Linked DNA regions of Homo sapiens. The protein of the gene in region 4 interacts with the protein of the main gene of each other region in a biochemical or structural test. Each region holds a gene or a part of one and is shown on either strand. Other genes may lie near its edges.

What was found.
Region 1: the proteins of TRIM15 (region 4) and MYLK4 form a complex in vitro, tested with the Homo sapiens proteins (one study listed by BioGRID).
Region 2: the proteins of TRIM15 (region 4) and IGF2BP2 form a complex in vitro, tested with the Homo sapiens proteins (one study listed by BioGRID).
Region 3: the proteins of TRIM15 (region 4) and PXN form a complex in vitro, tested with the Homo sapiens proteins (one study listed by BioGRID).

Annotation. Positions count from the first base shown.
Region 1 is NC_000006.12:2,747,923-2,755,829, forward strand, and holds the start of MYLK4 (myosin light chain kinase family member 4), read right to left. Parts: upstream 3,001-7,907; 5' UTR 2,814-3,000; intron 1,485-2,813; coding exon of another isoform or gene 1,373-1,484; coding exon 1,214-1,372; intron 1-1,213.
Region 2 is NC_000003.12:185,822,032-185,829,457, forward strand, and holds the start of IGF2BP2 (insulin-like growth factor 2 mRNA-binding protein 2), read right to left. Parts: upstream 3,012-7,426; 5' UTR 2,930-3,011; coding exon 2,752-2,929; intron 1,383-2,751; exon of another isoform or gene 1,307-1,382; intron 1,183-1,306; coding exon 1,122-1,182; intron 1-1,121.
Region 3 is NC_000012.12:120,220,723-120,227,754, reverse strand, and holds part of PXN (paxillin), read left to right. Parts: intron 1-637; exon of another isoform or gene 638-1,386; coding exon of another isoform or gene 1,387-1,402; exon of another isoform or gene 1,403-1,571; coding exon of another isoform or gene 1,572-1,602; intron 1,603-2,333; exon of another isoform or gene 2,334-3,377; coding exon 3,378-3,604; exon of another isoform or gene 3,605-3,921; coding exon 3,922-4,037; exon of another isoform or gene 4,038-4,755; coding exon 4,756-4,892; exon of another isoform or gene 4,893-5,004; coding exon 5,005-5,206; exon of another isoform or gene 5,207-5,996; coding exon 5,997-6,132; exon of another isoform or gene 6,133-6,440; intron 6,441-6,829; exon of another isoform or gene 6,830-7,032. UniProt on the Homo sapiens protein: Cytoskeletal protein involved in actin-membrane attachment at sites of cell adhesion to the extracellular matrix (focal adhesion). Recruits other proteins such as TRIM15 to focal adhesion.
Region 4 is NC_000006.12:30,158,538-30,166,548, reverse strand, and holds the start of TRIM15 (E3 ubiquitin-protein ligase TRIM15), read right to left. Parts: upstream 3,004-8,011; 5' UTR 2,948-3,003; coding exon of another isoform or gene 2,946-2,947; 5' UTR 2,865-2,945; coding exon 2,484-2,864; intron 1-2,483. Other genes in the region: TRIM10 (tripartite motif-containing protein 10), read left to right, coding at 5,268-5,381, 5,751-6,119, 7,304-7,399, 7,920-8,011.

The DNA.
Region 1 (7,907 bases), about 27 Mb from region 4:
CTCATGGGGAAAGCAGAGGTCTCAAAAAAATGTTTCAATCTGATTCATTTATTCTCTCCAGCACATTTTGTCATTTCTTATTCACTTACAATAAAAAGCCTCCTAGACCTTTTATATACAATCTCTCTATTTCATTGTCTATTGCATTGTTAGAAACGCCCTTCCTACCTGAATAGTGTTTTTTAGAACAGTAGCTGGGCAAAGAAGGATGTTTTCCAAACCTGCCTGATAAGAATCACTTGCTCTGATTATCAAAAATAATGGTTCCCAGCCCTCAACCAGAATTCACTTAAATAGATCTGTGCATTCCAAAAACACTTTTGGTGCCTATTTGTTTCCGTTACTAGGAAAGCAACTGAGGAAACATGAACAAATAACACGAGGTTTCCCAACCTTAAGGAGCCTTGTCTAGAGAAAGGTGATCAACATGTTCAAAACCACCACATGTGCTGGAATGAAGGCACGGGCAAAATGCTTGATGCTCCCACCGGGCAAGGAGCCAACGGATGATGGGCAGGAACTGACTGGGCCAAGGCAGGGGAGGTAATTGCTGCTGCCGCTAACACATATTAAATGCTGACTCTAGTGACAGATACTAGGCGGAGTGCTTTACAGACGTGATCACACTTAATTTTCACAATTGCTATTATCTCACTAATTCAGATGTGGCAAGCCCTTGGTTAAATTAATATTTTTCCCAAGAACGAGCAGCTGGAATGGGGCTCAGAACTCTCGTTCTGCACAGAGGAGGGTACAAGCCCCACCGTCGTGCCATCAGCAAGTCTTTCTTGTCCCTTCTCTGGACTTCACTATCAACAGCTCTGCTGTCTACCGCGTGAGGAACTCAAGATCTGAAGGAAAAAGGAGAAACTTCTTTCTGCAGAACAGTGTGCCTCTCAGAGCCCTTTTCTGAATTTCAAGCCCAAATCCATCATGCTAAAGGATTCTTCTTCATTTCTGCAAGCTGGCTGTATAACTCCTAAGCCACTAACTAAAAGTGAAGTCGACTGCTGGCAGAAATGCAGTTTCAAAGGCCTCCTAATTATTTACCAAACACAATTGTATAGTCGACACACACAATTCTCACTGAAGCAAAGTGGAATGATGCCTATTCATAAACTTTCCTTAATTGTACTCACAAGCGGCTCCATGACATTAGAAAAGATAAGATAGAATGAATACTTTTTAGGAGACTAAATTAGAACATGATTACCTCATTATGTCCAGATCTTGAATCCTGGTCCCCAGAATTTTTTTCCAGAAAACACTTCACTTTCTCCACCTCTTCCCTGCACTGAAAAAAGGCCATTTTCTCCAGCTGGTTGCTGTTATAACACGTGTTGAATTCTTCCAGCCTCTTCACTTTTAACATCTTAGTAGTGAGTCCGATTAAGCTACTTTCTGGAGTGTGGTTTTCGTCTCCCTCTGTCTCCGATTTATAAATCAGGACACAATTATGACTCTTCAGTGCTTCTTTCTCTTGACTGCAAAGAAAGGAAACACAAAAAGTTCTCATCACGTATTCATGCATTTGACTTCTTGAGAAAATGACCAGTGAGAATTTGGAAGTCCCTTCTGTTTAAACTGGAGAGAGGATCCAAAATCAGGAAAAGAAATACTAACATTCATATTGAGTTTCCAACATTGGAACTTTAAAAGGAAAAAAAATTTTTTCACTTTAAAACTACAAAAGCAAACAGTAAGAAGCAATGTCAAGATTCACTGGTGATGAAATATGCTCCTTATTGCACAAAACAAGCCGTAGATCAAGTGGCCAGCTTGGATGTAAATTATAAAGTATCTTTGGGTTTAATTGGAACCGCAGGTTTTGCAGCCCCGTGGGAAGGGCTTATCACAGAAGGGGTCTCTCTGCTTCCCCTGGCCTCCCTCTGCAGAGGGATCGCTCCCGAATGAGTCCTTTTCCAGAACTCTTCTCTACCTATGCCTTAAAATGTGTGGTGTTTATTTGTGAAAAGAAATTTATTTCCTTACAGTCTTCTCACGTGGACAGCACTCCCAGATACCTTTCCTTGCATCTGCATTAACAGCTATGTACCGAGAAGTTCAGAGTCTTTTCACTCTCCTTAAAATACTTTCCTCGCAAATGAAGTAATGCAGCATACATAATTCGCTTTGATACTAGAGACATATACGCATGTCTATATGTACACATCACTTGATTGCATAGAGAGGCAGGGAGAGGGAGAGACATTTGAATTTGTGCTAGTTCCGCATGGCTGACAACTGAGGCCCCCTGGTGGAGATTTTCCGAAAAGCGCCTCTTCGAGCATTTTCTCCGCTTAAAAACCGTATTGTGATTCTCATCAGAAAACTTAATATTTTGTTTTGTCAGTTCCTATAGTAAAATGATACTCTTGAGTTCCAAAGTGTTTAAAATTCACTGCTCTAACAAATTATACTTATCCACATAAAGAGCTTACATTCAAACAAATAAAAATGCAAATATTAATACTATCAACCAGAGCTCTACAGATATATTACAGATCATTCTTAGCATTCTTTCAAATTGCCCTGAAAAAATTATTAAAATAAGGAAACAAATGCATGGCTATTTCTAAGGCAAACTACGACTAAAATACTATGGTTAATTGCAGATGAAACTCAAGTTGGATCAGGAAGCCACACAAAATTAATGTATTAAAACAAAAGCTTAGGATTAAGATACAATAATTTTGCAAAGAAATATTAAACATTAAGCTCTACCTGAAGTTTGGTACAATTTGTTATTGAAGGTAACTTAGAAAAAAGGGGAGGAGATTTGAGAGGTTATAACAATAAACAAAGATAATTACCATTGATAGGATCACATCGAAGAGCTTGAGCCACTCCAAGTCTAGAGCATACATTCCAGAAGATAAAGAGAAATTTTGCAGAATTCAAACTGACTATGAAAGTCTCTGGTAAAAGTTTTGACTCTCAGTCGTATAAATCTTCTGAAAAGACAAGTGTCCACTACGAGAGGAAGTATCTTCTCTCTCAAATGCCACTTTCAGCCCCTGTTTAAATTAATATGGCTCTTGATCTCACGTTGCTCAGCTGTTGCCTTCTTAGTCAGATGGGGAAGAATATTAATTTTAGACACCAGGCTTTTCAAGGCCAATGGCTCCATTTCAGAGGTCAGGTAAGGAGAGGATGAACCGGGAACACTGGATGAAATATCACCTTCACCTTTCCCTCGTATCATTGTGTCAATACTCTCGGATTTACAAAGCTAGATTTGTCCTCGGCAATCATCTGCCTGGACCTTCTGCCCCTTTCAGACTCAGGATTATTTAAGTGCTCATTAAATTTCCCCCAGTAGGGAAAATGCCAGGTGTGGCAACCCCACAGCCACCTCTGTTTGCCCATCTTACGCTTTGAGCATATCCAACTGCAATATAGAAGATCTTCTGAAAGCAGTTAGCAAGTTTGTTTTATTTTTCTCAGTTCTTAAAGATGTTTGCAAAGTCTCCAACCATTTCTAGCTCTAGGGAAAGGTCAAAGGCACAGGCATCCAGGAAACAGGAATAAATTTTTCATAAATTCTCCTTAAGCAACACTAGGACTTCATCCGTAGTTTTCTGCACAGACCAAGAAAGGGGAATTTCAACCCACCTGCCCGACTCTCACAGTAGTGCATCCCTAGATTCACTGAAGTGGCATAAAACTTTGATTGCCCAGAGGCTGGACTTTGCAGTCTTGAAAACCCTGCAATTTTTCAGGGCCTGGCCAATTGTCACCTCTTATTTGGAGCCTGTGTTAGCCCCTCTATGCCCCATTCTAACACCAGCCTCTGCTGCTCTTCTGCTTCTTTTAAAAAAAAAACCTTATTTTTAATTCAGATCGATGCATTCCATGTGAAATAAAAATACATATTTTTCCATTTTATGTAGTATTAATGAATTACAGCAAAATCTTTTTTAAAACACAAAACGCTTGTTATTTTTCAGATTGGAGAGCTTTGTTCTTCAGCAAAAGTAATGAAGTGGAACTATAAATTTGTGGAGATAAATTATCTGACAAAAGTATTATACAAAGACTAAGCTGGTTTGAGGTTACCAATTTTGTTAGTATAATTAAATTGTGTAGAAGTACTGATAAGGCAACAAATGCCCTGCCAGAGGCAAGATGTGTGTGGGCTGCTGCTGATCCAACCACATCCTCCACCCGGACCACCACCACGCAAAAGCAGACTTCCTATCTCGTTGGCTCCAGCAAACCAACCACAGGCTTGAGTGAGCCAGAGGCCAGGAGAATCTGCTCCTTAGCTTATTTTTTTGTAATAAACTTTTCCTTTTAGAGTAGTTTTACATCTACAGAAAAGGTGCAAAGGTAGTTCAGAGTTCCCCTTGCCCTGCACCCCGAATCCTCTGTTTTTAACATCTTACGTTGGTATGGTATACTTGTCACAATTAATGAACCATGGTGAACGTTATTATTAACTAAACTCAATACTTTATTGTTGCTGGGTTTTTTTTTTCCCCAAATGCCCCTTTTCTGTTCCAGAATCCCATGCAGGATTCCACAGTACATTTAGAATCAGTAGGATTTATGATAGATTGGGTATGGGGTATGAAAGAAAGATGGTAGACACCTTTGCATATTTTCTTCTGAGCACTTGAAAGACAGAGTGAACATTAACTGAGATGGAGACGGCTGTGGGAAGGGCAACTCTGGAGGGAAAGGTCAGGCATGAAGTCTTTGGCAAGTCCATTAAACGTTCAAGTTGAATAGGCTGTGGAGATAGAAACTGGAGTTCCGGGGAGGGGTGTAGGCTGGAGATAAGAATTTGGAAGGCATCCACATATAGACATTTCCATGCACAATATACATTCAATACATATTTGATTAATGACTAGATAGAATGATCTTTAATTGTGTCTACTTGCCCTAAAAAGCAAGTCAATTAAAATAATCCATGCTAAAAGTGACTGATTGTCTGGTTCTGCTGCATCACACTGTTCCCAGCTTCCGATGGCATACAGGACAAGCACACTGCTGGCACAACCCTTGACCACAAAAAAACAGGTTATACATGCATACTCATTCTGGTCTATCAGCCTAGCCTCAGGATCCTAAGTCCATACCCATAAAATGTTCTGCATGCTTAAAGATGCTCTTATACCCGGAAAAATTCATTAGTGAGGAATATGAGCAGGCCCAGGAACACTTTTCCAGTATTTCCATATTTTGGAGTTATACTTCTCTAAAAAATACCAACATCAGGAAAACAGCACCCTACAGAGCCATGGAAAAGAATCCCTTGATTTTTTTCAAGGGACATTTCCATTAGCTGAGTAAGAGACTGTGTTGTCAAAGGAGCCACATGAAGAAACATCGTCGACAGCTCTTGTCTACGGGTTGGCATTGAAACCCGGCTGGATTACACTAAGAGTTTTTGTTTCTACACAGCGTTCTGAATGTTTCCAGAACAAGACCTCTTGAATGTTTACACACAAAAGCGGAGCAACAGTACAAATACCCAAATGCAAATAAAAAGCTACTGCATCCCTGTTACCCACATTACAATAGAACTTCCTTACTTTCAAAAATCACCACTGAATACGACCCATAAAAACGAAGATTGATAAATTGCACTTCTTCAAAATTCAAAACGTTTGCCTTTGAAAAAACACTATTAGGAAAATGAAAAGACACTATTATGAAAATGAAAAGACCAGCTACAGATGTATAGAAAATACTGTGAAGTCACATATTTGACAAAGGACTGCATCTAGCATATACAACTTAATAATATATGACAAAACATTCCAGTTTTTTAAATGGACAAAAGATTAAAACAGACCTCACCAAAGAAGATATAAAAATGGTTAATAAGCACATGAAAAAAAATGCTCAAAATCAGTCATCAGGGAGATGCAAATTAAAACCACAAGGAAACATCATTTCACACCCACTAGGAGAGCTGTAATAATAATGAAAAAAATAAAAGATAGGTTGGGTGTGGTGGCTCACACCTGTAATCCTAGCACTTTGGGAGGCCAAGACAGGAGGATCACTTCAGTCCAGGAGTTTGAGACCAGCCTGGGCAACATAGCAAGACCCCATCTCTACCAAAAAAAAAAAAAAAAAGACAGAGAAAAGCAAGTGTTGACAAGGATGTGGAAAAACTGGAACCCTCACCAAATATGTTGATGGGAATATAAAATGATACAGGTGTCTTATAAAAGAGGTTGGCAATTTCTTAAAAAGTTATTTCCCATATGACCTAGAAATTCTTCTCCTAGGTATCTACCCAAGAGAAATGAAAACATATGAACACAGAAACCATGGCACATGAATGTTCACAGCAGCATTATTCACAATAGCCAAAAACTGAAAACAACCAAAATGTCCATCGGATGATTTGGAGACTGGGAAAAGATAATGTGGTATACACATACAAATGGAATACTACGTAATTAAAAGGAATGAAATACTGGTATCTACTACAATATGGATGAGCGAAAACACTGTGCTAATTGAAAAAAAAAAGCCAGAAACATAGAGCACAGATTGTATGATTCCATTTGTATAAAATGCTCAGAAAAGACAAATCTATAGACGTAGAAAGCAGACTGGTGGTTGCCGGGGGCTGGGTGCAGGAATGGGGGTTAATTGTAAACAGAATCTTACCCGATGATGTGTGGTAGTGATGACTGTACAACTCATTCAGTTTCTTAAAACAATGCAGAATTGTGCACTTGAGATGGGTGAATTTTATAATATGTAAATTATACTTCAATAGAGTCATTAAGAAAAAGAAAACCCAATAATATGATTAACAAAAAGTAGCTTGTTAAAAGGAGAGGAAAAAACTGAACACTTTGTGGTCATCTGTCCCCAGTGACCAAGGCTGGGATCCAGGGAAACATAAATTATATTCCACACTTGCCAGGTCACCTAGGGCCAAAGAAAAGGAATGGTGAGCAGGAGACAGTTAAGAGTCTCACGCTTTTCTTCTCCTGGCATGAATATCATGCAATATAAGATTTTGTAATTAATAGAAAAATTAATAGTAATTTTAAAAGTAATTTCTATCTTTTATTTTCTGCTTGGAGATAGGATACTTTGAGCAAGAAAGATAATGATGTTATGGAATATCCAGATTTCTTTACAGGAAATTTTGATATTAGACCACTAAAACTTCTAAGTGACAGCAATTAGCTAAGTATTACGAAATACAAAAATGAAAATAAAACAGGTTTTAAAAATTAGATAAAAATATGGATTGGATCATTTAAAAATTAATATTTTTCAGAAATATTACATAAAGTTTCAGTTTATTACCTCTACAGTGGCTACACAAATTGTTCCTTTAATTATATCCCTTAAACTTTCTAAGGGATATTTGCAAGCATAGTACAATGAATACCTATACATCCTTCACCCATATTCACCAAATGTTAGCATTTTCCATGTTTGCCCTCTCTCTCTCTTTTGCGAGTAAGATGCATATCTCATGAAACTTTACCCCTATATGAATTGGTGTATGTTTCTTGAGAAAAAAGACACTTTCTCACATAACAGAATCTACTCAAAAATTACATAGCGCATTTAATCACCATGTCTTCTTAGTCTCCTTTTATCTATTTAGGAAATGGTCATTCCGTTTATTTTATTTTATTTTACTTTTTGAGACAAGGTCTCACTCTGTTGCTTGTGCTGGAGTGCAGTGGCGTGAACACAGCTCACTGCAGCCTTGACCTTGGCTCAAGTGATCCTCCTGCCTCAGCCCTCCAAGTAGCTGGGACTATTGGCAGGCACCACCACACCAGGCTAAGTTTTGTATTTTTTGTGGAGATGAGGCTTCCTAGTCTCTCTCTCTTTTTTGTAATCCTTCATGACATTGATATTTTTGAAGTCTTTGGACAAATTGTTTCATAAAATGTCTCTCAATTCTAATT
Region 2 (7,426 bases), on a different chromosome or scaffold from region 4:
CTCATATGCCACAGAGATTATTTGCAAACAAAAGTTATTCTGTTGCTTACTTAAAATAAAACATATCTGGAAATGTGGCACACAATTTTTAAAAATCCCTTCAGCAACACATCTAAGTATTTATAAAATTAGGGTAGTTTGTTTTAAAATCTACTCAATCCTGACAAAAATCAGGTGGTTAAACTATTGACTGATAAACTGTAAAGGTGGTCATCAAAAACTTCATTGAACAGCTCCAGTCCAGCTACTTAATGACTAATGGTGAAGAAATGTATGTGAATGGGATATAAACTAAGTTTCGACACACAGCAGAAGAAAAAAATTTAGAATGAGTAATAAAGGGCCCAAATTTAAAGTCCACAATAAACTTTAAACAAAGATGTTTTCTCTTCTCTTCTCATGTTAGCAAATCACTGTGGAGAAATCCAACCTCCACAAAACTTGTTACTCCGTCATTAACAACAGTGCACTTAAATATAACTATAGATTTCACAAGGGTATTTATTTTAGCCGCAAACATTTCTTACAAGCAACAACAACAAAATGCTCAGAAGCTATACTCAGTAGTCTCAGTGACTGAAAAAGTCCGGCTTTTAACTGCCATCCAATCCAAACAACCCACTTCTTTAGAAAGCTATGCAAAATATTGACCCCTTACTGAATTATTTTACTATTCAACATTAAACTATCTAAAAGAGAAAAGTAATTAATCGCTAAGTTTAGTTAAGCAATTTAGCTGACATAGTAAATATTTACTCTTCACATCTCACAGGAAGTCTTGACAAGCATTTGCTGCTATTCTGCTGGGGGTAGGGGCGGGAGGTGGGGGTGGGAGGCAATTTTTGATAAACAAGTTACAGGGTCCCAGCGAACTGAACATAGCTGGTGTTCGCCACCCCGACCCCCAATTAGGCACCAGATATTTTCCAAGAACAGTAAACACCTTATATAATGAAAGTAAAAAAAAAAAAAGTAGCTTTCTAAACTATGTATCTCCACTAACAAAACAAACAAAAGCCCCTTTAAAAACTACCAAGAGCACGTTTTTTAAAGCTGTGTGTACGTTTTTTACTTATACGTAAGGCCAATCGCAAAAAAAAAACTAAGCAAAGTATATTTACCTTAGCTTTTTAGAGACTGAGTAATCAACTTCCATGATTTTCCCATGCAATTCCACTTTACCTTTAAAACAGAAATTAAAGCACTCAGAACCTTGCTTAGATCAAGCCCGCGGGGGTCTAGGGGGGGCACGCACGGAACTCCACGCTCGGGCTCCGCCTTCGGGCGCCCCCAAGGGGTCTCCTACCCGGATCGAGCTGGGCGAACTTGGTTCCCAGTAGAAAGAAAGGTGGGCGCCCCGTGTCTCGGGACAAGGCGAGGAGGGTGCGAGCCCGGGTCGGACCCCAGGTATAGCCGTGGGTGGCATTACCGGAAAAACAAATTTAATAAAGAGCGGCGCCAATTTGAAAGGATGAGCTCATTTGAAACTCAAGCTGCAGGGCTGGCGCGGCCCCGCTGCTCTCCCGGCCCCCACCTCTCCATTCCGCTAATCCGGGGCCCGAAGGCTCCACCGGGCTCCCCTCCCTGCCCTCTCCTCCCGGTGGCCCCGAGAAAACGAGCCGAAGCCCCCCGGAGTCCGCCGCAGCGACAGCCCTGTCCCTGCCCGCTCCTGGGTGTCACCTTGGCCTCGCCGCCGCCCCGCCCCCACTCCACACGCCGGTGGGGAAGGGGCTCCCGCCGGGCCGGGGTTCGGGGGGCGCCGGCCGGGGCCCGGGGGCCCGCGCGGCTGGGAGCGGAGCGTGTGCTGGGGAGAGTTGGGGAGTGCGCGCGCGCGAGTGTGTGTGTGTGTCGCTCTCCGTCTCCTGTCTGGGCTCCAGCGCGCTCGCGGGCCCCCCGGTCGCCTCTTTCCCGGTTCTCAACCCTGGCCCCCACCGAGTTGAGACAGGGCACCTCGTAAAAAGGTGCTTCTGGCCGAGCGGGAGGCGGGGGGACGGGCGGCGGAAAGCCCCCAGCCCCGAGTTCTTCTCAATAAAATCGGACAAAAAATTCAGAGAAAAATAGGAGCGCTTGAGAGAGCAAGCGAGAGGGGACTGAGGTTCGGGAAAGGACCGAGGGGATGTGCCGTCGTGCGAGGGCTGGGGCTGGGGGAGCCCCGAGATCTCGAAGGGGGTCACCAGGGTGGCGCCGAGGGGGTGCCAAAAGTGGGGGGCCGTGGGGCGAGGTGGGGAGGGGGCTCGAAAGGAGAGTGCGGCTCAGGAGACGCCAGAGGGCGAGAGGTTCTGGGCACGAGGCACTGGAAGAGAGAAGGTCCGGCCGGGGGAGGAGGAAGAGACGCTGGATTTGGGGAAGGGGGGACCCTGACAAAGGGGGTGACAGGAAGGTCAGGGGAGAAGTGAGACAGGGGACGCTCAAAGGGTGGGGGGCGGGGAAGCTCAGAGCAGCCCGGGGCGCCAGGCGAACGAGGGGTGCCCCTAAGGAGCCGGCGAGCCTCGGGAGCCTTCGGAGCGGCACGGGGGGCGCCCCAAGGCTGCGGCCCCGAGGGCGAGGGCAGAGTCCAGAGCTGTGGGGGGAGGGGAGCGGGCCGTCCCAGGAGCGGGCCGGCGGCGAGAGTTGAGGGTCTGGTGCGTGGAAGTGAGCGTGCGGGCGCGGGAGCCGCCGCCGGGCGCCGCCCGCCGGACTCGGCCTCCCTCCCGGCGCCGTCCCGGCCTGAGCGGGGCGAGGCGGGGGGAGGGGGCCGCGCTGAGTGCTCACCCGAGAGGGTCTCGATGGCGCGGATGGCCCAGTTCTGGTCGGGGTAGTCCACGAAGGCGTAGCCGGACTTCAGCAGGACCTGTCCCGCCAGGGGCAGCTTCCTGTCCCCAAAGAGCTGCCGGAGGTCGTCGGCGGTGACGGCGGGGCTCAGGTTCCCGATGTAAAGCTTGTTCATCATCCGTCTCTTCCCCGAGAGCCCGCGGCTCCCCCGGCCCGGTACCCGGCGCTCCTCGCCTCCTCCGCTGCCCTCGTCTCTCCTCCTCCTCCGCCCCCCCTCCCCGCCCTCCGCCCGCCCGCCACCCACCCCCACCCTCAGCCTGGCTCCCCCCACCGCGGCCGGCCCGGCCCGCCCGGGGGCAGAGGCGGAGGCGGGGACTCGGCGCGGCTGCCTCCTCGGGGCAGAGTCCCGGGCCGGGCGGCGGCGCGCGGACAAAGCGCTCTCTCTGCCTCCCTCTCTCTCCCTCTCAAGGCGGTGGCGGGAGGAGGAGCAGCGGCGGGCGGCGGCAGCGCACCCCGCGTGTGTCTGTGTGAGAGTTTGTACGGGCGTGTGCGCAGCCGAGAGGGAGCGAGCGAGCGCCCCCTCCCCGCCCCGCGCCGCTGCGCCCCTCGCCTCGCGCCCACCGCGCTCGGCAGTGGCTGCTCGGGCTCCGGCCCCGCGCCAGGCGGGCGGAAGCGGGTCGCGGCCCCGGGCTGGGGCTCCGGGCGCCGGAACCCCGGGCGGGCGCGGCGCCGAGGCCGGGCGAGCGGCGGGGCGGGGAAGGCGCGCCCCGGGCGCGGGTGGGAGCGCGCGAGGGGGCGACGGGGAGCCGCGGGCGTGGGAGGGAGAGGGGCTGCGAGTGAGCGCGGAGAGGGGTGTGCGCAAGGTGGACCGGATGTGAGTGCGCTGCTGCCAGGGCAAGCGGGAAGGTGTGTCCCGGAGGTGAGAGGCGAGGGCAGGCTGGGAGACAACAACTTTCGCAGCGACTTGGCCGGGGCTGGCGCCCTGCGCGTTCCCGGGCCGTGCGCTCGCTCTGAGACCCGCTCCCCGCCACGCTCTCTGAGGTGACCGAGCGGCGCGTGTGGTCGAAGGATCGCGCGCGGGAGTCGGGACGCCTAGGACCGGGGTTGGCCGGGCCCTCGCGGACCGTGCTCGCGGGGAAGTGGTTCCCGGTCCCGGGCCTCAGTTTCCCGACCGGGGAGGGAAGGCGGAAGGCCAGCGCGGAGTCACGTCCTCTCCGCCCAGACCCCGCGTGTCCGGAACCCCGCGGCAGGCGGCAGCCTGACGTTGGCAGCTGCTCTCTATTCTGGGAAGTGCCGAGGGCTTCCCGGGCGGCGGCGGCGAAAGCCAGGTGGCGGGTGGGGAAACGAACGCCGAGGGGCCAGGGACTGCGGCGAGGCCGGAGCGCTGGGGTCAGCGGCCGGGGGACGGATGGTCGCCGCCCGGCTGCGCGGCCGGTTCAGCTCCAAAGCCAGGGTGGTGGGAGGCGAGGGTGGCTGGAAGCGGAGGAGCGCAGGCTGTGTAGGAGTTCCCCGAGCACTGGGAAGGGCCCGGAGAGGAAAGAGGTCCTTCCAAGCGGAGGAAACAACGTGACCGACGGAAGAGGCAGGGTTGGGATGAGAGCAGGCTGGAGCCGAGGGGCTCGGGCAGGAGCCAGACAGGCTAGAGCGGGCTGCAAGTTCCGGGGCCCGGCTGGAAGCCTGATGGTTAGAGCCTGGTCCCAGCCAGGAAATGAAATTCTACAGGAGGGAGAAGAATGGCGGGATTCAGAGGTGAGGAGGCAGAAGAAGATTCCAAGCTCTGGACCTCTGGGGGCCACTGGGAGAGTTGAAGGTTTGATCGCGGATATGTTGGGTTTTGTGAAGGCGTTGGGGCGCGGGTGCGGGGAGTGTCCTTGGGTGGAGAAGTCACGAATGTAGGAATGGAACAAGTTCGGGTCTCCTGACTGGGTCGTGAAGTAGTATTGTCTTTCCCAAGCTTTCCTGTTGATGAGCGGCGTGGAGAGAATGGGGCTTGCTGGATTTTGTATTTTCCGCAAGTACTCCCAGGTGATTCTGGTCTGGTAAACACTGTTGGAGTGGAAGGCCTATCTGCCCCGGACTCAGACCTTCTCTCTGCCCCCATCTTTGTGCCCTGAGATGTTCCAGCATTCTCGAGCCTAAGTTTCTTCATCTATAAGGAGATAAAATAACCAGTCCTCGCAGGGCTGTTGTGAGGGCTACAAGAAGGATAACTGCCTAGCGTGTTGAGACATGGGTGGTCAGACACTTAATGCCTGTTTCTCTTCTTTCCCCCAGGAATTCATGAACTTTTAAAATACTTTATTCTACAGAAGGAGATCTTCTTAACTAATTAGGTATCCAGAGGAGAAAGTAATGAATCCATTTTCACCTAGATATTTGCAGTTATTTGAATTCTGGCTTTTGTCTCAAGTATTCACATATTTTTTTCTCTCTCTAGAAAAAGAATCGGATTTTACTGCTCCAGGAGTTGAGAATGAACTTGGTTACTAATCCCCAAAGTAATAGATAAACTAGGTGTGGATGCTTCTTTACTAAATTGTATCAGAGAATCACAAATGAACATGACTTGTGCATGCATAAACCTCAGCAGACTGAACTAACCATCTTTAGATTATTTACACATGTGCTCCTAATTGATATGGTCACCTTTATATTATAGGACAGCATATTTGCTTATTATTCACAGGTACATGTAAAGGAGAAACGAGAGTGGCAGGAATAGTTGGCCTCATTCCTCTCCAACAGGTCAGAAAAACTTGTTGTTGTTGTTGTTGTTGTGTAGCATTTTAGATACATCAATTATTTGGTCTTACTGTGAGACGAAAAACACATTAGACAATGTACAGATTCTTGGCAGAGGTGGTGTATCAGTCCATTTTCATACTGCTCTGAAGAAATGCCCAAGACTGGGTAATTTATAAAGAAAAAGAGGCTTAATGGACTCACAGTTCCACACGGCCCAGGAGGCCTCCTCATAGCGGAAGGTGAAGGAGGAGCAAAGGCACATCTTACATGGGGGCAGGCAAGAGCACGTGTGCAGGGGAACTGCCCTTTATAAAACCATCAGATTTCGTGATACTTATTCACTATTGCAAGAACAGCATGGGAAAAACCCACCCCCATGATTCAGTTACCTCCCACCGGGTCCCGCCCATGACATGTGGGAATTATGGGAGTTACGTTTCAAAATGAGATTTGCGTGAGGACACAGCCGAACCCTATCAGGTGGCTTCTGGTGAACTCTTCTTACCCTGCTTCACCAAGTCACTTTGAAATTTTTTTTTTCAGAGAAATAATTGCTCTTTGCTGCAGTTGTCAGCTGTCCTGCTGGAATTTTGGAAACAGCAGGGCTGCAGAAGGAGGGCTTGAACTGTAAGTGTGATGGAGGGCATGCTTCCACTACACCCCTGGTTTGCAGCATCTACAGTGCCTTATCTTAGAATGCAGAGTTATTTTTCACATGATAGAGAAGGGGTTGGGGACCTTTGAAGACAATAGGGGACAGCCTCCAAGTGCAAAGTCAGAAATTCAGAGGCCTTGCTCCTGCCAGGCAAAACTTATTTTCTACCTGTTTTCTCTCGAGTTCCCCTACTTATCCCTCCCCCAGAGAGCTGAAACAGAGACCATCTTGATTGATCTAGACTTGGTTTACACCTGATAAGCCAAGATTTTATGAATGTTTAACAGAGGTCAGAAATTTGGAGAAAATCTTATAGTAGGCATATTACCTTTTAAAGCATGAATTAACTAATGTTTTCCTCAAGAGTTTCAAAGGCAGTACAGATCCTCATTGTTTCCCAGCGATTCTTTTGGGCAAGACAGTGATAAGGTGGCTGGGACAAGCTTTCTTAATCCTTCTTTTCAGGTAAGAAAACTGAAGCTCAGGAAAGTATAATTTTTTCTTAATCACATGGAGGGCCTGAAACACACCTGGAAAAAACATTTTAGTCTAACAACAAAGAGTTCATAAGTGTTAAGTCTTTTTCTTTTCTTTTTTTTTTTTTTTTTTTAAAAAAAGTCTTACTGTCACCCAGGCTGGAGTGTGGTGGGGTGATCATGGCTCACTGCAATCTCAAACTTCCAGACTCAAGCAGTCCTCCCACCTCAGTCTCCCGAGTAGCTGGGACTACAGATGCATGCCACCATGCCCAGCTAAAATTTTTTTTAAGAGATGGGATCTCACTGTGTTGCCCAGGCTGGTCTCAAACTCTTGAGCTCAAGCGATCCTTTTGAACCTACAAAGCTATAGCGGAATGTTTTTTTGCTCAACTGATAATGTAGTCAGTATAACCAGTGTCTCTAGATAATGTGAGAAGTTGAAAGAGAAAGTGAAGCCTATTTGCTGGAAGGCTGAGGCAAAGCCAACATTTGGAGGTAATTCTTAGAAGGTCCTGCACCTGCCTGTGCATCAGGAATGATTTGGTAGTAGGGTAATGTCCCTTAGACCAGTAGTCCCCAACCATTTTGGCACCAGGGACCGGTTTCATGGAAGACTATTTTTCCACAGACAGGTTGGGGGGTGGTTTCAGGATGAAACTTCTTCACCTCAAATCATCAGGCATTAGTTAGATTCTCATAGGGAGCATGCAACCTATCCTCACATGCGCAGTTCAAAATAAGGTTCAAGTTCCGATGAGAATCTGATGCCACCGCTGATCTGACAGGAGGTGGAGCT
Region 3 (7,032 bases), on a different chromosome or scaffold from region 4:
TTTCTTGAGGAGTTTGTGGGGGGTTTGGAGGCACCAACCCCTACCCCTCTTGCCTAGTCCTTGCCTGTCCAAATCACTAGGTGAGAATGAAGGGTGGAGAGAGAGGAGGAAGCCATACCAGAGACCCTGTGGCTGGTGGATGGACTTGCTGGGGTTTTTCTCTGTCCCTCAAATAGACAAAACTTTGGAGAAAACTGAATAATGATGTGCCTTCTCCCTGACATCTGCACTCTATGATTTGTTCGTTTGTTTTTAAGACAGGGTCTTGCTCTGTCACCCCGGCTAGAGTGCAGTGGTGCAATTGTAGCTCACTGTAGTCTTGACCTCCTGGGCTCAAGCAATCCTCCTGCCTCAGCCTCCTGAGTAATTGGGACTACAGGCGCATATCACCACACCCAGCTAATTTTTAAATTTTTTGTAGAGATGGGGTTTCACTGTGTTGCCCAAGCCGATCTCCAACTCCTGTTCTCAAGTGATCCTCCCACCTCAGCCTCCTGAATAGCTGGGACTATAGGCATGCGCCACCACACCCAGCTAATTTTTAAATTTTTTGTAGAGACAGGCTCTCACTGTTTTGCCCAGGCTGGGACATGCTACAATTTGAATGTTACTTTATTACTTTTCTTTTCTTTTCAAGGTTGCCCTTTTCATGGTTTGCTCATATTCTACCCAGAAAAGACTTAGGAGACTTAGAAGAAGTTAGTACTTTGCATCCTACCTACACTGCTCTCCTTGGAGGAAGACCTTATTCTGGATTTTACAGAGCAAATCAGATCTGATGTTTGTAGCTTCCAATGTGCTATGGAGCTTCCTCCTGCAGAGTGACTTGGGTCTGGAGAGCCTGATATTTGCAACTGATGTCTGCAGCTTCCAGTGTACCTGCTAGCCCTTATAAACCTCACACCAGTACTTTGAGGTCAGAGTTATTCAAGAGCTTACTGAGACAACAGGCCCTGAGAAGCTAAGCGATTTGCCCTGTGGCATGGATGGTAGAGAGGGGAGCTGGCACTTGAACTCAGGTCTGGCTCGACCTCAGAATGAGTGATCTTGTGTCTCTGTGCCCCAGGACTGCATCCTCTCACCAATACTTCACCAGCCTAGGGATCTGTGCTCCCAAGAGCCTGTTGACATTGTAAACCTGAATCCAATCCATAAACCAAAAGCCCAGGCTTAGAATCACATTGTGGTGGAGCGGGTGTTTGGTGGAGTCCCTGATTCAAAATGTTTGACAAGGAAGCCTGACCATTTGTCTTCTGTTGGGTGTTTGGAGTCCAAGAGACCTGAGATCAGAGTCCAGCATTGTCACTTCATCCAGCCTTGGCAGTGTGGGATGTGACTCTGCCTCTGAACCGCAGTTATACCATCTGTGCTGGTGGCGTTGTGAGGATGGCAGGTAACAAAGGTGAAGCTCCTGGCCCCAGTGGGCCTTCAAGGATGGCAGCTGCTCCTGCCCCCTACTGGGGTTGCACTCATTCGTTGCCTGCTCTGGGGAGTCCTATGGGGTTTCTTAGCTGGCCCTGCCCATGGTGGAGAAAGAGGGATCCACCCATTGCTGATTGGGCCCAGAGGAAATGAGGACACTGCGTGAAGCCAAGACAGCAGGTGTGGCCCTGGAGAGGCCGTGGGGATTGGCCTGGACACTGGTTCCTTTTCTGCCGTTACCTAGATACCTACCAACTCCCTCTAGTTCCGGTTTGCTAGAGACAGGAAGCCAGGCCTCCTCCATGGGACCCGGAGGGCGGGGCGGGCTGTAGGACCTGAACTTCCTTGGAGGTCAGGCGACCAGACCCGGGGTCCTGGGCCTTGGAACAGACATCCCCTCTGTCCATCTGGGCAGGAGCATGGGGTAGGTGTGGCCAGCCTTGAGGGTAGGAGATCAGGACAGGCAGCTGGGACAAGGTGTGGCCCCATAGACCGAGGCCCTGGGTGAGGGCCTTGCTTCTCTATTCCCTCCTCTGAACACAGGTTGGGGGACTGGGAGCAAGGCCACAAGGAAGGATCACACTGGCAGGCCTCACAGCTTGGGCCTCCAACATTCAGGAAGTTGAACCCTTTAAGTATGGCATCATCTGGTAGTCATAGTGGCCTCTTACAGGCCAGGTTTTTGGGGTTTGGGGCTTCTGAGGAGTCAGACAATTGTGCCACTCACTGGCTTTGTTATTTGGAGCAAACACCTCTGACCTCTGCCTCTCCAAGCCCGGCTTTCCTCATCGCTTCGGGGAGAATCATTTCCAGCTACAGGGGGTATTAGGGGGATTAACGGAGACCTCGTACATGCTGCTAGAATGCCTAGCAGTCTGCCTGCTACTGATAAGTGGCAATAAACGCAGCCATTGCTTTTTAGATGTTTATTATCCTGAGGGCTAGGGATCAAGCTGTCAGCTCCCTGGACCCAGCAGGTTACCGGGGAGCTGAGAGCAAGCAAGTTGTGAACGGGGCAGGAATGAGGGTGTGGCATCCAGGGCCAGGCTGTCTGAGCCGTGGGGCTGTTGAGGGTCCCAGGAGGGGATGGAGGAAGTGGGGGTCAGCAGGTCCTACTCCTGCCCTTCTATACCCTTCTTTTCTGGAGACTGGGGAGACCTAGTGCCCCCCTGTTGGCTGCCAGGTGCCAGGGTAATGGAAGCTTACACTAGAGGGCTGATTTGGCTCCCTTGCCGCTGTTAAAAGCAGAACAGTGGGGGCCTGGAGCCTCTGGGGCCGGGCTGCTTGCCAGACTTCCGCAGAAACAGCCAATGGAGCAGTCTTGCCCCCTGCTCACTGAGGGGGTGGGGACCGCTGCACCAGCCTCACTCCAGCCCCCACCTCCCCGCACACCTTACCCCATAAGCCTAGAGCCTCAGGAGGAACCTGGAGCCTGGGCTTCTGCTTCCACCTGGTTAGGAGGGCAGGGACCATCCTGAGTGCCCCTTCCAGTCGGGGGCTGGGAAAGCCTAAGCTCTTAGAAATCAAGTGAGGGCCTGGCATAGCCAGGGCCCCTCCCTGTGACGTGGGGCCCCTCCCGCCCATTCTCTCCGCGTTGCCCTGCAGATTCAGAGTTCCAGACAGGCACTTCACTCGCGGCTGCGCGGCCCTGTCAGGAGGGAACGCAGTGCCAGGTGCCTGACTCCCAGAGGTAGGAGATCCCACAGGGCAGCCCCAGAGCCCGCCTCTAGAGCACTTTCAGTCCTGGGTGGCCAGAAGAAGTTAGCTTTGGGAGCCGGCTCTTGGTTAGGCTGGTCGGGGCTGGTGGCTTCCTGTCCCAAGGCTGGTCATTTCTCCCATGGGTGGGGCAGGTGCTAGAAGGCATTAACTCTTGAGGTGCAGGCAGGGAGGGCCCTGCCACGGGAGAGTCCCCAGGATCCCGGTTCTCACCTGCTACCCGTGCCTTCTCTTTGCAGACGCCCTGCTGGCGGACTTGGAGTCTACCACCTCCCACATCTCCAAACGGCCTGTGTTCTTGTCGGAGGAGACCCCCTACTCATACCCAACTGGAAACCACACATACCAGGAGATTGCCGTGCCACCCCCCGTCCCCCCACCCCCGTCCAGCGAGGCCCTCAATGGCACAATCCTTGACCCCTTAGACCAGTGGCAGCCCAGCAGCTCCCGATTCATCCACCAGCAGGTGAGGCGGGGACAGTGGCTGGGAAGGCCAAGGAGGCTGGGGGACAGAGGGAACTTAGCTGGCAGGGGCTTAGGGAGCCAGGGGATGGAATGGAATTGGGGCAGTCGACCCTTCCCAACCAGACACTGCTCTTCCCACTCACCACGTGAGTGGAACAGTGACCAAGTGGTTAATCACAGGTTTCCTGGCCCAACTGTGGAAATTCCCTGGTGAGACTGGCTGTGGGCAGGAGCCTCCTGGGGGTGACTGGAGCTGCTCCTGGCCCCTGTTCCTTTTTCTCCCCTCGGGGTAGCCTCTGAGCATTCTCCTTCTCGCAGCCTCAGTCCTCATCACCTGTGTACGGCTCCAGTGCCAAAACTTCCAGTGTCTCCAACCCTCAGGACAGTGTTGGCTCTCCGTGCTCCCGAGTGGGTGAGGAGGAGCACGTCTACAGGTACTGCCCCAGTCTGCCCAGGGCACCTTCCCTCCTGCTTAGAAATCTCAGGGACCTGGCCAGGGTGGGAGGCAGCGGAGGCCCGGGAGCAGGCATAGCAACTGGGCCTTGTGGGGTTATTCTGGTTTAAGCTGCAGAAGGCCTGTCGGTGGGCCCGTCTACCTCATCAGTGCCATCTCCATGCAGTGGACATTCTGGGCTATCACAGCATCTCCGTGTAGCTGAGGAACTGAAGCAAGACTTCATTCCTCCCCTCTTCTTTTTTTCTTTTTTTTTGAGACGGGGTCTCGCTCTGTCACTCTGTCGCCCAGGCTGGAGTGCAGTCGCGCGATCTCGGCTCACTGCAAGCTCCGCCTCCTGGGTTCACGCCATTCTCCTGCCTCAGCCTCCCAAGTAGCTGGGACTACAGGCACCCACCACCACGCCTGGCTAATTTTTAGTAGAGACGGGGTTTCACCGTGTTAGCCAGGATGGTCTCAATCTCCTGACCTCATGATCTGCCCGCCTCAGCCTCCCAAAGTGCTGGGATTACAGGCGTGAGCCACTGTGCCCGGCCTCCTCCCCTCTTCTTACCACATCCCTTCCCTACCCTCTGTCCTCTTGCGGGGGAAGACTTCGCATCTCCTCTGCCTTGTTCTCCTTGGGAATCTGGGAACTGCCAAGCCAGTACAAGGCCAGAAAGCATCTCTCACTATCTTCTTTCCTTTGCCTCTCAAAGCTTCCCCAACAAGCAGAAATCAGCTGAGCCTTCACCCACCGTAATGAGCACGTCCCTGGGCAGCAACCTTTCTGAACTCGACCGCCTGCTGCTGGAACTGAACGCTGTACAGCATAACCCGCCAGGCTTCCCTGCAGGTAGGACCGGGTCCCTGGGGCAGGGTCTACCAGGGCCCAGGGCCCATCTGCTGACCTCTAGATCCCAGGAGGGCTCAAGGGCTGAGCAGCCTTTTTCTCTCCTCTCTGCAAGATGAGGCCAACTCAAGCCCCCCGCTTCCTGGGGCCCTGAGCCCCCTCTATGGTGTCCCAGAGACTAACAGCCCCTTGGGAGGCAAAGCTGGGCCCCTGACGAAAGAGAAGCCTAAGCGGAATGGGGGCCGGGGCCTGGAGGACGTGCGGCCCAGTGTGGAGAGTCTCTTGGATGAACTGGAGAGCTCCGTGCCCAGCCCCGTGTGAGTACCCACTGGGCCCTCCCCAGGTGGGGAAGGGCTGGCCCAGCCTGCCCCGGGTCCAGTGTCTGTCCCCTTAGCCCTGGTATCACCCACTCCCTCCCGTGTCTGCCATTTGCCAGGCACTGGGGGGATAGTGGTGAGTCACATGGACACCATCCCTGCCTTCAGCCAGTCACTGCCAGTCAGAAAGGACAGACGTTGTGCAGGCTGAGGGCGCCTGGAGCTTAGCAGCTCTTAGCACAGGCTTTGGGGCCACACAGTGGGGTTCACATCTTGGCTCTGACAGTTACTGTCAGCTCTCAAGCCTTAGTTTTCCCATCTGTAAAATGGGACAAGAACTTATGGGATCACTGGGATAAGACCACCTACCTCAGTAAGGGTGAGAACCAGTAATCCATGTAAAGCGCTTGGAATGGTTTCTGGTGTGTAGTGCGTGGCACACATGGTGAGTGCCCAACACGCGAGCTCTTACCAGTGCCGTCGTGTTACTGCAGTAGCCTCACCTCCATGTCCAGTGTTGTGGAGGAAACACAGGGCGCTTGGGCTTGTTTCGCAGGCCAGCTTTCACTTGGGCTGGGGGCTAGAGGAGTCTTCCTGGCACTTCCTGGTGCCATTGAACTGCCCTTTCTTCTGACCCAGTGATGGGTCCCCAGGAGAGACAGGGAGCTGGTGGACCTCCCTGGGGTTGGGGATGGTGAGACCCCAGTGTCCGAGGTGAGAGGTCGATCTGATCCCCGGGAAGTGTGGGGCTGACTGTGGGCTCCCCACTGATGCTGTGCCCACCCTGCAGCCCTGCCATCACTGTGAACCAGGGCGAGATGAGCAGCCCGCAGCGCGTCACCTCCACCCAACAGCAGACACGCATCTCGGCCTCCTCTGCCACCAGGGAGCTGGACGAGCTGATGGCTTCGCTGTCGGATTTCAAGGTGCCCTGTGAACCCTCCATCTTCCCTGCCCTGCCGCCCCTCCCTCATCCTTCTCCTCCCTTACCTCAGTGTGGGTAGCTGGATCTTGGCATCTCAGTGTTTGGGTGCCTTGCCCCTGAGCCAGGGACACTGTCATGCCCTGGCCTTGCTGTGATGCCAGGAGATGGGGAGGGAGGGCCGGGTCAGCCTGCCTGAGGATTGCAGTAGCCAGTGAAGGCAGACAAGCTGGAGAAGTGCTCAGCTGGGACATTCCTTCCTCCCTGGGTGCTCCCAGCCTCTCAGGTCGAGGGGATCAGGAGGCTGGGACGCTGGGACAAAGAACCTTGTGTTGATGGCTGCTCTGGGTGGGGGAGGGCATTCTCTGCTGGGCCATGTGGGACTTGGGAGCCTGTGCCTGGGAGGTCATTTGCCCTGGAGCCCCATCTCCCACGCTAGCTGTCCTCAACACATCCTCTTTCTTTCTGCCTCTGATCCTGAATCCACAAGCCTCCCTTGCTACTCTTCTCCCATCCTTCCCTCTCGCCCTCCAGGGCCTCTGAGTTCCCACGAGCGTGTCTGTGGGAAACCATGGGGCCAGGCTTGCACGAGGTACCTGCCCTTCCCCTCCCCTGCTGGGCCTCCCCAGTCCTGCCAGGCCTGAGATGTTTAATTTAGAGGATTCAGTGTTTCCTTGGGGATTGATATTGACAGAACTCACCAGCAGCTGCTGACTTCATACTTCCACGTGGGTCAGCTGGAGACCTTTGGGGCATGACCTAGGGAATATGAGAGGGGAGTGAACGGTCCCTGCACCCTTGGCCCTGATGGTGTCTCCTAGCCTCCCTTCAGCTGAGGTTTCATGGTGGGAGACAGGAGTGTGGCTGGGGTGGAGGGTTGAGCCTGGCCCTGTGACCCTTGCGT
Region 4 (8,011 bases):
CTGGAGGCATCATGCTACCTGACTTCAAACTATACTACAAGGCTGTAGTATATGATATCAAATATGTCTGGTATCAAAACAGACATATAGACAAATGGAACAGAAGAAGGGCCTCAGAAATAACACCACACATCTACAACCATCTGATCTTTGACAAACCTGACAAAAACAAGCAATGGGGAAAGGATTCCCTATTTAATAAATGGTGTTGGGAAAACTGGCTAGCCATATGCAGAAAACTGAAACTGGACCCCTTCCTTACACCTGAAATAAAAATTAACTCAAGATGGATTAAAGACTTAAACGTAAGACCTAAAACCATAAAAACCCTAGAAGAAAACCTAGGCAATACCATTCAGGACATAGGCATGGGCAAAGACTTCATGACTAGAACACCAAAAGCAATGGCAACAAAAGCCTAAATTGACAAATGGTATCTAATTAAATGAAAGAGCTTCTGCACAGCAAAAGAAACTATCATCAGAGTGAACAGGCAACCTACAGAATGGGAGAAACATTTTGCAATCTATCCATCTGACAAAGGGCTAATATCCAAAATCTACAAAGAACTTAAACAAATTTACAAGAAAAAAACAAACAGCCCCATCAAAAAGTAGGTGAAGGATATGAACAGACACTTCTCAAAAGAAGACATTTATGTGGCCAACAAACCTATGAAAAGAAGCTCATCATCACTGGTCATTAGAGAAATGCAAATCAAAACCACAATGAGATACCATCTCACACCAGTTAGAATGGTGATCATTAAAAAGTCAGGAAATAACAGATGCTGGAGATGATGTGGAGAAATAAGAATGCTTTTACAATGTTGGTGGGAGTGTAAATTAGTTCAACCGTTGTGGAAGACAGTGTGGCAACTCCTCAAGAATCTAGAATGAGAAATACCATTTGACCTGGCAATCCCATTACTGGGTATATACCCAGAGGATTATAAATTATCCTACTGTAAAGACACATGCACACATATGTTTATTGCAGCACTGTTCACAATAGCAAAGACTTGGAACCAACCCAAATGTCCATCAATGATAGACTGGATAAAGAAAATATGGCACATATATGCCATGGAATACTATGCAGGCATAAAAAAGATGTGTTCATGTCCTTTGCAGGGATATGGATGAAGCTGGAAACCATCATTCTCAGCAAACTAACACAGGAACAGAAAACCAAACACCACATGTTCTTACTCATAAGTGGGAGGTGAACAATGAGAACACATGGACACAGGGAGGGGAACATCACACATCGGGGCCTGTCAGGGCTTGGGGGACTAGGGGAGGGATAGCATTAGGAGAAATACCTAATGTAGATGATGGATTGATGGGTGCAGCAAACCACCATGGCACGTATATACCTATGTAACAAACCTGCACGTTCTGCATATGTATCCCAGAACATGTATAATAAAAAAAAAAAGAAAAGGACTTAGTGCCCCTGAATTGTATACTTAAAAACAGAGAGAGAGGTGGGAGGAAGGGAGAAGAGTATTCTAGGAGGAAGAGACTATGTGCAAAAAGTATTGGAAGCAGGAATGAATAAGACAACTCAGGAAAAAACAGCAAGTGCAGCTCAGTCTGGCCAGACACGTGGTGCCTTGAGGAGGGAGGCTGAGCGATGAGGCCGGACAGGGAGGAAGGATCCCGACTGCAAAGGGCCTTGAATGTCTTGCTAAAGACCTTGGACTTTCTTTGGGCACTAGGTATACATGGGAGGATTTTGTGCAGATGAGTGACTTTGTGTTTTAGGAGGATCTGTCTCCCAGCAGATTGGAAGGTGACTGGAAAGGGTGAGAATGGAGACAGGAAATGCCATGGAGACTGCAAAGTCTGCGCAAGAGATAGGGAGAACCTGGCTGTGAGGATAAGGCAGAATTAAAGATTTGGGAGATGTTTCTAAGGTAACCACTTCCAGACCTGGTGACTGGATGACAAGAGAGAGATCTGAGAGGCTGACAGGAAAGTGCCCCAAGGCCAGATGGGGAATTCTCACAATTCTGGACTACTGCCACCCTCCCTTTCTCAAGAAGAAGAGCAGTGCTAGCAGGTTCCCCTTCCCAGCTCCTCCCTCCCCTCTGCGCCCTGGCAGTCAGGGCCCTATAAACCCCATTTCCAGTCTGGATCCTGGGAGAACAAGTTTACCCTGCCCATAATCTGCAGAAGATCCCACTCGGCATTGGAGCTTTCTTTCCATAGTGAGTGAAGCCAAGGCTACAGTTCTTTGCACTCCACCTCTGTGGGGTCCTCTGAGAGCTGGAGCTGAAGTTCCCCCCAGACCAGGAACTACCACACATCCAAGTGGAGCCCTATCTGCCTTCAGTCTGGGAATGCCTCGAAAGTCCCTGTAACCTTAGGGTTCCCTGATGTGGAAGCCTTTCATCCAGATCCCCGCCCGATTTCCTCCCCTCATAACAGGACATCATCCTGCCCCAAACAGGCCCTAGGTAAAGCTACACTTCTTACCCGGTAGGGCTGAATGGCCTCGTCCAGGAACCCCACGGTGTGCGCCTGGTGCGTGGGACCCTCCCTGCAGAACACACAGAGGAACTCGGCATCGTTCTCGCAGAAGAAGTAGATCTTCTCGCCGTGCTCCTCGCAGTAAGTTTCTCCCAGCGGGCCCAGGGGCACAGGGGCCATGGGAGTCTCTGCCTGCTCCTCCTCTTGGCAGAGCGGGCAGAGCAGGATCTTGCCCGAGGATTGGGCCCCCATCTGGGAGAGCGCGGGGAGGCAGAGCCGGCAGAAGGTGTGTCCACAGGGAATGGTCACCGCATCCTCCAGCGGCCCCGCACAGAGGGTACAGGCAGGCAGCTCATGGACCACCTTCAGGGACGGGGTTGCGGGCATCACGGTGCCTTCCCCAGCCCGTCCACTCCGGTCTCCTCAGCCCACGCGAGTTCCCTTTCCCTGAAATCGAGTCACACTTACATGAATCGCAGAGGGAAACGGCTGCAAGGCTAAGAGACAGAGAGAGAGAAAGAGAGAGAGAGGCAAGAATGCCAGCACAGGGAAGCCACCTGGCTCCGCCTCTTGTGTTCCCTAGAACCCTGGCCACCACCTATCAGCGGAGTGGGTCCAAATTCCAGGGCGTCTCGAATTACCCAGAATTTCCCAGTGGCGGCCAAGTAAGCCAGTTCTTTACTCCTGGCTCCTTCTGGTCCCTAGGGTGGAGAACAGAGCACACCATGAGGTCACAGGGGGATGGGTTTCCTGGAATCTGTAGACCACAGTGGCTGGGGAGAACTGGGGAGCAGAAGCTTCCTGTCAGATTGAGCAGGTGGGAGCCATAAACTTCTGGCTCTGAGGCGTGCCCACAGCATCAAAGTCCAGGCTGGAGTGAGAGGTGTGGACTTCGGGAGATTCTGCCGGAAGTGTGTGGGCGGGACGCTGTTTCGACACTGCAGGTAGGGTGTAAGGATTGCTCATCGGGTCCCCTCTTCTGCTCTCCTTTCCTCCCTCACCACATCTGCCCATGGTGGCCCCTCCTACGGTCCCAAATCCCCCACCACCTGGCACAACAGTCCCCTTTGGGGTTCGGGTAACACTGGACTATTTTATTTATTTATTTATTTATTTATTTATTTATTTATTTATTTATTTTTACTGTAGCGGGGAGAAGGCAAGAAACCATAATGCAAATGATTTATGTTGATACACATTAGAAAACGATTAGTCAGATAATCAGTTTCAACCACATTTATCTAGGGTTTAGTATTTTTATATTACTACATTCAATTTTAATAACCCTCTAGGCAAACATTATTACCTTCATTTTACAGAGAAAGAAATGTAAACTGACTTTCCAAATGTAAAGTGACTTTCCAAAGGTCACAAAGCTAGAAAGTATCACGTTAAGGACGATCCCAGTCTCCTGGCTTAAAGCCCTACGCTCCTCCCACACCTCATGCCAAGACCAAGATCTGCAGCCACGGTCCTTCACCCATGCACACATCTGTGGATAAAACCAGGCCTTCCCCCATTCTCCCACTGGGTGATCAGCCTAGCCCCTTGTGGTTGCTCCCTTTTTACTCTAATCACTTTATTACCTCCCCTTCCCATCCAATCTCTGCTCTTCCTGCCACGAGTGCAGCCCAGGAACTAGTTTGTCCAATACAGGAGCCACCAGCCACATGTGTCTACTGAGCACTGAAATGTGGCCGGTCTGAATGGCGGCATGCTGTATATGTAAAATACATACCGGATTTCTTTTTTTTCTTTTTCTTTTTCTCTTTTTTCTTTTCTTTTTTTTTTTTTTTGAAATGGAGTCTCGCTCTGTCTCCCGGGATGGAGTGCAGTAGCGCGATCTTGGCTCACTGCAAGCTCCTCCTCCCGGGTTCACACCATTCTCCTGCCTCAGCCTCCCGAGTAGCTGGGACTACAGGCGCCGGCCAGCACGCCAGGCTAATTTTTTTGTATTTTTAGTAGAGACGGGGTTTCACCGTGTTAACCAGGATGGTCTAGATTTCCTGACCTCGTGATCCGCCCGCCTAGGCCTCCCAAAGTGCTGGGATTACAGGCGTGAGCCACCGCGCCCGGCCAACACACCGGATTTCAAAGGCTTTTCACAAATTTAAAAATGTAAAATATCTTATTAATGACTTTTTATATGGATCACATATTGAAATGATAATATTTTGGAAATATAGGACTAAATAAAATAACATCATTAAAATTACTTTCACCTGTTTAGACTATTTTTATATGGCCACTAGGAAATTTTAAATTGCATATGTGGCTCACTTTGCGTTTATGTTGAATAGCATTGCTCGGAAGACAGATCTGACAGCAAATTATTTATGGTCACTCACCTTCTTACTTGTGTGCCTAGGGCAAGCTGAATAACCTGGCTGGGCCTCAGCTTTCTCATTTATGAAATGGAGATCCTAATAGCACTGATGTTGCAGAGCAGACACAGAAATAAGATCATACTTTTAAATTGCTTGTATCAATGTAAGTTGTACCGTCATTGTAAATAAATTCTGGCCAAATTGCTTGTATCAATGTAAGTTGTACCGTCATTGTAAATAAATTCTGGCCGTTAGTAGTTTTCTTTCTCCTCCCCATCATAGGGAATATTCCAGCCTCTTTTGAGGCCTGCAGCAGGCCAGTTGAGGCATCACCATTGAAGTTGCTGGTGCAGTGTACACCCTGGCACAAGGACCTTATCTGAGCCCCCACACTCTCCTGCTTGCTGATGGGCAAGCCCTGGGCTGGCTGATACCTCCAATCTCTTTGGAGACAGCTGGCCATATGGCAGAAAGGCTGGAATGGCATCTCCACTCTGTGACCCAGTCTCCCACTTGCCCCCAAAAGAATATTTCTTCTGACAGTGGACAGCTGACATATCACCACTTTCCTTCTACTGTGAGTGTCTCTGGATGGGCAGAAAGGAATGGCCAGCCCCTGGTTATGGTCATCTAAGGTCACCTCTGAAATGCTGTGAGCCCCTCTTCCTTCCTCTCCTCTGCTATTTCCCATCTCTGCTGTTGGCAGGAGAATAGAACCCTGGCTGCCAGAGATGCAAGTGTGTGACGATATGGGTGCTGGTGCATATTTAGTATGTGCCTGTGTCCAGCCATGTGCATGTGTGGGTGTGTGAGTGTGTGACCCAGCCCTTCCCCCGTGGCCAAGCAGAGAGAGTGGCCTTGAGGAAGCCATAGCAGCAGGACCAGCATGGCCTCTGCTGCCTCTGTGACCAGCCTGGCAGATGAAGTCAACTGCCCCATCTGTCAGGGTACCCTGAGGGAGCCGGTCACTATCGACTGCGGCCACAACTTCTGCCGGGCCTGCCTTACCCGCTACTGTGAGATACCAGGCCCAGACCTGGAGGAGTCCCCTACTTGCCCACTCTGCAAAGAACCCTTCCGTCCTGGGAGCTTCCGGCCCAACTGGCAGCTGGCTAACGTGGTGGAGAACATTGAGCGCCTCCAGCTGGTGTCCACACTGGGTTTGGGAGAGGAGGATGTCTGCCAAGAGCACGGAGAGAAGATCTACTTCTTCTGTGAGGATGATGAGATGCAGTTGTGCGTGGTGTGCCGGGAGGCTGGGGAGCACGCTACCCACACCATGCGCTTCCTGGAGGATGCAGCGGCTCCCTATAGGGTAGGAAAGGGGAACTGGGGGATCCCAGGGTGGACTGGACTGGACTAAGAGAAACAGCAGAGTTGTGGATTATTTAGGCCACCCGGAGGCCAAATTCTTTCTCCTTACTTACATGATCACCCAGGCAATAGACCCAGGCATGGAAAATTGTGTTTATGTTTTATGTTTTTTTGAGTGTGTTCTGTGTTCACTTGTGGCCAACAGATAACGGGAGTTCAACAAGTACTTGTTGAATGAATGAGTGACCAAACATGAGTGTGTGTGTCTGTGCCATGGATCAGGTGTGTCTGAAGTTTGCATTTGAGGGAATGATTGTACAAACAGTGTGTATATGTGTTAATGTTTGCATGTTTAGAAGTGTGTCTGGTGTGTTTGGATGGGAGTCTGAGTATGTATATATTTGAGTGTGTAAGTGTAACTGAGAGCTCCTGTTTGTGAATAAATTCGTGTTTACATATATTCAGGCTGGGTAAATGTATGTGGCATGCCATTTTATCTGTCATTAAATGAATGTGTGCTGGTTTTAGTTGTTTATGCATTGTGCTTATGAATTATGTTTTAGTACAAGTCTGTGTGTGGATGTCTTAATTAGTTAATTAGCAGTTGATAGTGAGAATTCTAATATATCTTTGAACACACATATTTATCGTGTGTGTACCTGTTCCTAACTCTATTCTGGAGCAAATAATTTTGAAAACAATTTATCAATTATTTTTACATTACCCAAGTTTCTTCTCCCCTCTGGAGTCATACACAGATAATTGATTTCAGTAACAAGGGAGGGTTGTTATTTACACATGTTCCTTTGGGATGAGTCGGAAACTCAGAATGATTTCAGTGCGGGGCATATCAAACTCAGTACAGACCCCAGATACCACTTACCCGAAGCAAAACACAATAGAATGTTAAACCTGAAGAAAGACTCAAGTGGGAAAACCAAGTCACAGCCTCTAATGGCACAGGATAAAGGGGGAAAGTCCTGATCCAAAGTCTTAGAGACAAATCAAGAGGAAGAAGACCCAAAGGGAGTAAGCTGTCAGGGTGGTGAAGGCTCGGGGATTGTCAGCTAAGGAAGGGACTCCTCTCCTGGGGCCATTTCATTCCTGGAGGCAGAGGGTCAGATGACCAGACAAACCTGAACAAATCATTTTCCATCTTGAGTATTTTATGTTCCTTCTCCCCAGGAACAAATCCATAAGTGTCTTAAATGTCTAAGAAAAGAGAGAGAGGAGATTCAAGAAATCCAGTCAAGAGAAAATAAAAGGATGCAAGTCCTCCTGGTAAGTCATCACCCCTTCCCCAGGTTCCTCCCCTTCCTCAGGGTCCAGTGTCTTCCTGAAACTGAGGCAACATAGATTATAGGGCTTTGAAGTTATTATGAGTTTAAATCCTGACTCTGACACTAACTCTATGACCTCAAGCAACTCTCCAACTTCAGTTTACTTATCTGTAAAATGGAGAGTAAAAATCATCATGACCTCATTGAATTACTGTAAGCATTAAATGAGATTGTGACTGTAAAGTAGCTCAGGGCTGTGCACATAATGTGCTTTTCATACAAGACAGGAGGTAGGGTGTCCCCACCACCTCCTCCTACACCTCCTGTAAGCCCTACCCCTTTTAGAAGCTGCAGCAGATGGTGCTGAGACAACACTGTGAGTCTTGCTTCTCGAAATGGGATGACAAGTGAAAAGGAAACCATGACACAGTTCCAGATCTACCTGGGGACAGGGGAGGAAGAGGAGCAGAGGGAGAAGGAGGAAGCAAACTTTCTCTTGGGCTTGCCTCCTGCCCCCTCAGACTCAGGTGTCCACCAAGAGACAACAGGTGATTTCTGAGTTCGCACACCTGAGGAAGTTTCTAGAGGAACAGCAGAGCATCCTCTTAGCACA